Homo sapiens: one gene and its partner. The protein of the gene in region 2 interacts with the protein of the main gene of each other region in a biochemical or structural test. Each region holds a gene or a part of one and is shown on either strand. Other genes may lie near its edges.

Region 1 (3,500 bases), on a different chromosome or scaffold from region 2:
TGTTTGCCAAGACCTTTATTGCATTGTATTGTAATTTTTGAGGAGTCTCCCTCTGTCACCCAGGCTGTAGTGCAGTGGTGCAATTTCAGCTCACTGCAACCTCCGCCTCCCAGGTTCAAGTGATTCTGTTGCCTCAGCCTCCTGAGTAGCTGGGGTTACAGGAGCCCACCACTATGCCCAGCTAATTTTTGTATTTTTAGTAGAGACAGGGTTTCACCAGGCTCTTTGGCCAGGCTGGTCTTGAATTCCTGCCCTCAAGTGATCTGCCCGCCTCGAACTCCCAGTGCTGGGATTACAGATGTGAGCCACCACGCCCGGCCCCAAGACGTTTATAAAAGTACACTTTGCCTGACTGTGTTCCCTTAGTTGGCTGAGGAAAAGATCTCGCAAGTATTTTTTCCTCTGTGGAGTAAGGAAATTTCTTCCTGGTTTGGGGGAAAGTCATTTTAAAAAAAGACACTTGGTGGCCCCAAAGCTAGAAGTTATTTCTCTCTTAATGAACTCACTTTCTATGAATTAAGTCAAGAGCTTATTCTCCTTAGCGCTCAAAAGAAGGCATTGATCTCCCTATTTTGTAACTGCTCAGAAGGAAATCTGTGTTCCTACAAGATCCTGATTTTTTAAATGGGTCTGGATGTAAAAATGTTTGGCAATGGAATCTTGTTTTTGCCCACCAGGGTCAGTCTTCAACTCATCATGATGGGAAGACATTTCCTTTTCACAGTCGGCTACCAGCCTTCTTCTAATTAGCCAAATAGGGCAAACTCTTCTATCTCACCCATAATTTTAAGCACAAGGTGATGATAAGATATATTTACTGTTTTTAAAAATTGAATTAAACTCCTACCCTCTGAAATTAAAATTCTGTGTAAGAAGATTAGGGCAAAGTATTTGATACTTTGTCCCAGGTTTCCAAAATATGACAACTCACATTCATATACCAGGTAAGTGGAGACGATAGGTTTTTTTTTTTTTTGATATTTAATGATGTAGCTTCTAAATTTGGTAGTTCTGTCTTTGAGTGTGAACTTAAAAATTATGAAGATGCGGCTGGGCGCGGGGGCTCACACCTGTCATCCAGGCACTTTGGGAGGCCGAGGTGGGTGGATCACCTGAGATCAGGAGTTTGAGACCAGCCTGACCAAGATGTTTTGAAACCCCGTGTCTACTAAAAATACAAAAATTAGCCGGATGTGGTGGCGGGCACCTGTAGTCCCAGCTACTCGAGAGGCTGAGGCAGGAGACTCACTTGAACCCGGGAGGCGAAGATTACAGTGAGCTGAGATCGCGCCATTGCACTCCAACCTGGGCAACAGAGTGGGACTCCGTCTCAAAAATAAATAAATAAATAAATAAGAAGATGCTCACATACATCTCTCAAGAGGGACAGAAATCCATTTCTATCCACTACCTTACCTATCGATCAGTCCAAACTTTTCTTAAATCACACAAACACCTGTTACCTCTTTGTGCCTTTGTGTATGCTATTTTCCCTGTCTGAGATGCCTTTTCCTTCTTTTCCCCAAACTCCATTTGGAGTGAGATTCAATGGAACCTCCTCTGTGTAGCTTCATTCTAATCTTCTGTATACAATAAGGCTTTAATGAAATCATTCAACAAAGATGAGTCTTCCATTAAGGAAGAAGCCTGGCTAGACAACTGTTTCGTTTGTTGATATAAGTCTGGTCAATATCATCACTAACTATTAACTCATGGAATCCTACAGCAGCACCATGTCTTAGATATTTGCTGCCCATTATGTAAGCCAGAAATGAAAAAAAAAAAAAGTGTTTCAAACTTAATATGGTGTTTATTGGGTTTGACTGCTTTGAAGATTCCCTAAGACAAGCCAGCTAGTCTGTAATCCTATCTGAACAATGGTATTTTCCTCACTCATTTTTTAACACCAGTGAGGAACAGGAGGCAGCTAATAGCTTTCCAGAAGTAACTGTGTGCTAACTGTAAGATCAGAGCACCTTCTGAACAAAGGCCTTGGAGAGGCTTCAGAAATAAGGCAACCAGGGAGGGGACCAAAAGTCATGCTTTTAACCTCAAAACTAAGGCGGCCTATCCATAACCCAGAGAGGAGACTTAGGGGTCACATATAAGTTTCTATAGTCTCATTATGTACCACATGGGGCTAACCATACAGTCTACCATCTTGATTTTGTCAGCCATTACAATGAAAAAAATATAGTGAAATATACTTTGCTAAAAAAAAATGGCACTTACATCAGCTTTGCAAATAAATATAAGATGTTTGCTAACCCACAAAATATCACCCACTAAGCCCTCCCTCCCACAGGAAAAACCCCCACACTTGGTTCTCCTAGGAATATGCCATTAATTGCCCTCGGCATGTGTGAGTGGCTAGTCACAAGTTAACTTTATAGCAATATTTAATTGAATGAATAGAACAATGTTGTGCTAATGAGGGTCAAATTGCCACCAGATGTTGCCTTTTTTTTTTTTTAAATAAACACAGCTGTGTACATGCGTGCATAGGCAATATAGAACTAATAGAGAGAAAAGAGCTTCCAAGAAAACATTTGCAAGCAATAAAGGAGAGAAAAATCTAGGGATTAATGAATTTCCATCCCACCTTTCATTTTTATTTCAAACACATGAAAGTTCACTAAACTTGGTGCTGTGAATATGCTGTACATTAGATATTATTTCCAAACAACCATTTATTAAATGGGGAACTTTCTCCCAGTGGGGGCAGAAGAGTGAGTCAGTCTGATGAGAAGCCATCGACAACCTGACTGTTCTGTGATGTCGTCCTTGCGGAGGTCCAGGAACCAGCTCGGAGTCTTCCAATCTCTAGCTGCACAAGTCCCTGTGCACACTTGGAAAGGCAAGAAAAGAACAGAAATGAAAAGTAGTAGCATTTATATTCTGAAATATCTTAACAGAGCCTCTCCCTGCAGCCACAAATTATAAAAGGGTAATGAAAGCAACAGGCATAGCCCTAGAGAGAGGAGGATGAATTCTGTGGCTCCTGGAGGGCCCATCTCATCAAATGCATTTAAAGAACAGTGATGGATACTTAGAATTCTCACAAGTATGAAAAACTTGCTTGTGAAATCCCAAAGCAGGTTCCCTTTCATTCTGTTAGTCAATATAACAGAACTTTCTTTTAAAGCTATTCTGGCTCATTTAAAATAATCAGAGATTAAATTTCTAGTAAAAACTAGAGTTAGTATAAAATCCAACCCATTTTATAATCAAGCTAGACTGGAACAGTTCCCACTGGACTTCAGTTGTGCCAGCTGGGTAAAAAGCAGCCTAGCAACTCACCTTGAGGATGGTGGCCACTGTCTCCTGTGAGGCATTTCTCATGTCCTCCCCATTCACAGATAAGATCTGATCTCCCTGAATCAATCTCCCATCCAGGTCTGCGGCTCCGCCTTTCACGATGTCAGAAATAAACACTCCGCTTCCATTTCTGTTAATACCATACAGCAGTGCAGTATTGGCACAACCTAATATTTCCATGC
Region 2 (3,500 bases):
AGTAATCCTCCAGCCTCAGCCTCCCAAGTAGCTGAGACTACAGGTGCATAACAACACAAATGGCTTTTTATTTATTTTTTTTTAGAGAGAGCGATATAGGGGACTCACTATGCTGCCCAGGCTGGTCTCAATCTCCCTGACCTCAAGGGATCCTCTCACTTCAACCTCCCAAAGTGGTGGGATTAGAGGCATAAGCCCCTGTGCCTAATCTATCCATGATTCTTATAGAAACTAAACATACTGGTTTTGGAGTTAACCCCATCTGGATTCAAATCTTAGTCCAGACACTTTCTAGCTGTATGGCCTTGTTAAATCATTTAACTTCCATTTGGTCATCTATAAAAATCATATTAATGAAGATGAAGTAAAATTACTTATGTGAAAAGGGCTAACATATCAGGTATATAATCAATGTCAATTTCCTTTATTTACCAAATGACTTCTAATCCTACCTTCAGTCTACTTTTTTGTGTGTTATTGCTTCTCCACCATCTCATGTGATACTACTTTAAATGGTTGGAGAAACTGTGTATATGCTGAAAACTATTGAAAAATAAACTCTCAGGAAAGATACTCCTATGTATATTGTAGGATCATTAGGAATTGCCTCCACCTTTAACAAAGAGATACTTTGTGATAACGCATTACTAAAATTTCAGCAGCCAATGAGGAGAGGGGGAGAAATGGCCAGGAGATTGCCAGGAAGGTGATGCTTATGGTCTCTGTAACTTGACTGGTTGAGGCTCCCAGTTGATGCTGGCATGTTTATGGACCAGTGCTTGCTTGCCCCCAGGGCTGGGTGGTGGAGAAGGAGTGGGAGACGTAGTCACACACATACATGCACATCACCTAATACTTCCAGAGTGACTGTATCCTCTTCCAGGTTTTGGCCTTGCTCAGATGGGGCACTAACTTCACAACGATATTTCCCCGCATCACTTCTTGTCACATTTTTGATCCGGATATTGAAATCTATCATCTCAGCTCGATTTTTAAAATCACCTTTTAGAAAAAGAAGACATTGATGTTAGTAATAATCCAAGTAGCTTTCTGTGTAATACCTTCCTCTAATCAGTTCATTTAGTAACCAAAGCATTTATTTCCCTTTTAATAAACTCAAGTTTAAAGCCTAAAAGTTGTATATAGATGCTGTTATTTAAAATTTTTCTTTTGGAAAGGACAGTTTTTAAAATGTTCAAAAGGCCAGGCATGATGGCTCACGCCTGTAATCCCAGCACTTTGGGAGGCCGAGGCCGGTAGATCACTAAGTCAGGAGTTCAAGACCAGCCTGGCCAACATGGTGAAACCCTGTCTCTACTAAAAATACAAAAAATTAGCTGGGTGTGGTGGCGGGCGCCTGTAATCCCAGCTACTGGGGAGTCTGAGGCAGGAGAATTGCTTGAACCCAGGAGGCGGAGGCTGCAGTGAGCCGAGATTGTGTCACTGCACTCCAACCTGGGCGACAGAGAGAAACTCAGTCTCAAAAAAAAAAAAAAATTCAAAAAAGCATAGTTTTATATTCTCATATTTTATTTCATTTTGATATCTAATTTTAGTTTACTGGCTAACTTTTTTGGCAGTGTTGTAATGCCTATGTTCAACCTTATACTTCTCACTGAATCAAAATTTTGAAATCTTTATGTGTAAGGTTAATAACTGTCAGTTAAGCAGTTCACTGAGCAATTAATGTTTTTGTCCATATGCAGTCAGATCTAATTGCTGCTGTAAGATAGTCATAATTTCTCCAGTTTCAGTCTAACATATACCTTATAGTAACAAGATGCAGGTGTGTACATATTTTCTAATTAGTTGGATGGCCCTTAACAAGCCATTTTAGGTCTTTGCCTTCACTCACATAAAACAGGGATAATAATATCTTTTTTAAAAAATTTACTTTCTAGGTAAGCAGACATAAGGCCATGTGAAAACATTTTGCTAAAAGTTGCTAAACAAACGTAAGGCAAAATTTGTAAGGTATTGTCATATTAATTATTTTCTAATATTTAACTGACCTTTTTCTAATGTAACAAATATAAAAATTGCGTATTTTCAGAACTATAAAATTCAGTAGTTATACAAGGTGAATTAAAACAGTAAAGTTGGTCATAATAATAAGTTCATTCATGTATGTTTTTATTTAATTATATTAAGAAATAATTATAAAATAGGTAAAATTTAGTGAAAGCATTGCTATTTATTCTGCTTAGGTGGTCTTGCCCATATCAGTGGATTGTCTGGCACTGGCCACTCCATCAGGTACTCAGACAGTCATATGGCCCATAGATTTTGTCAAACAGATTTGGCAATACAACTCTGACCTGTCTGTCAGTCCATATGCCAGATCAAGCATGTCAATCTCCTTGTCAGTGATTGTGTCTAACTTCTCAAATATGTGCTTTTCAAAAATGAGGTGACAGAGCAAGCCAAGGTTCCCTGCCATGCAACAAACCCATCAATATCTACATTATTTTCAACCACAACATCTAGCAAAGAGTCATCAACTTTTCCTTTGTTTGTTAATGTTTCACTGTTGGTTTATAAAGTGGACTGTTATTTTATCTTCCGAGCTGCTCTGGGCCTTCACTGACGTGTTTGATCTCTGGCTGACCCCAGTGCTCCCACCCCATCTCCGAGTGCCCAGCTCCCTGGCAGGCTGTCAGCTCTAGCATGGGCCCTGTGAGGAGCAGCTGCCAGCAGGCCTGGCCACTGAGGCCCTTCCACATTATGTATGTAAATTTTTTTTTTTTTTTTGAGACAGTCTTGCTCTGTTGCCCAGGCTGGAGTGCAGTGGCGTGATCTTGGCTTACTGCAAGCCATTCTCATGCCTCAGCCTCCCAAGCATCTGGGATTACAGATATGCACCACCACACTGGCTAATTTTCGTATTTTTAGTAGAGACGGGATTTCACCATGTTGGCCAGGCTGGTCTCGAACTCCTGGCCTCAAGTGATCCGCATGCCTTGGCTTCCCAAAGTGCTGGGATTACAGACATGAGCCACTGTGCCCAGCCCCATGTTATATTTTAAAGAATTGAGCTCAAATGCTTGCCTCATTCCCTTTCTAGTTCCCTTGTAAAAATATTCATGTCTTCAGAAAACCAGGGAGTCTGGTTTAATTGACTGGAACAGTAACTTTATGTGTGGTGGCTCACGTAACACTGCGGCACAAGAAAAGATGGTTAAAAACATTATTTTATTTTTTGATAGTAACATATTCAGAATTAAAATAGTGTTTTGCACCCGGTGTGGTGGCTTGCACCTGTAGTCCCAGCCAATTGGAAGGCTGAGTGGGAAGATTGCTTGAGGACAGAAGATTGAGGCCAGCCTTGGAACATGGCCAGATCTCATCTCTTTAAAAAAATGTAAAAATTAGGCAGGTACAATGGCTCAAATAAATAGTGTTGCATAAAATAATAGTTTTGCATTTCTGCATATGCCAGAAATGGCAACTACAAAAAATTCAAGTGAAGACAGCTGTGCTATTAACACCTTACAGCTAGT

What was found. The genes of interacting proteins can lie anywhere in the genome.
Region 1: the proteins of JAM2 (region 2) and PATJ interact in a test that uses a peptide from one of them, tested with the Homo sapiens proteins (one large-scale study listed by IntAct).

The regions. Positions count from the first base shown.
Region 1 is NC_000001.11:62,116,480-62,119,979, reverse strand, and holds part of PATJ (inaD-like protein), read right to left. Parts: intron 3,449-3,500; coding exon 3,301-3,448; intron 2,849-3,300; coding exon 2,762-2,848; intron 1-2,761.
Region 2 is NC_000021.9:25,691,258-25,694,757, reverse strand, and holds part of JAM2 (junctional adhesion molecule B isoform 1 precursor), read right to left. Parts: intron 2,580-3,500; exon of another isoform or gene 1,618-2,579; intron 1,003-1,617; coding exon 850-1,002; intron 1-849. UniProt on the Homo sapiens protein: Junctional adhesion protein that mediates heterotypic cell-cell interactions with its cognate receptor JAM3 to regulate different cellular processes. Plays a role in homing and mobilization of hematopoietic stem and progenitor cells within the bone marrow.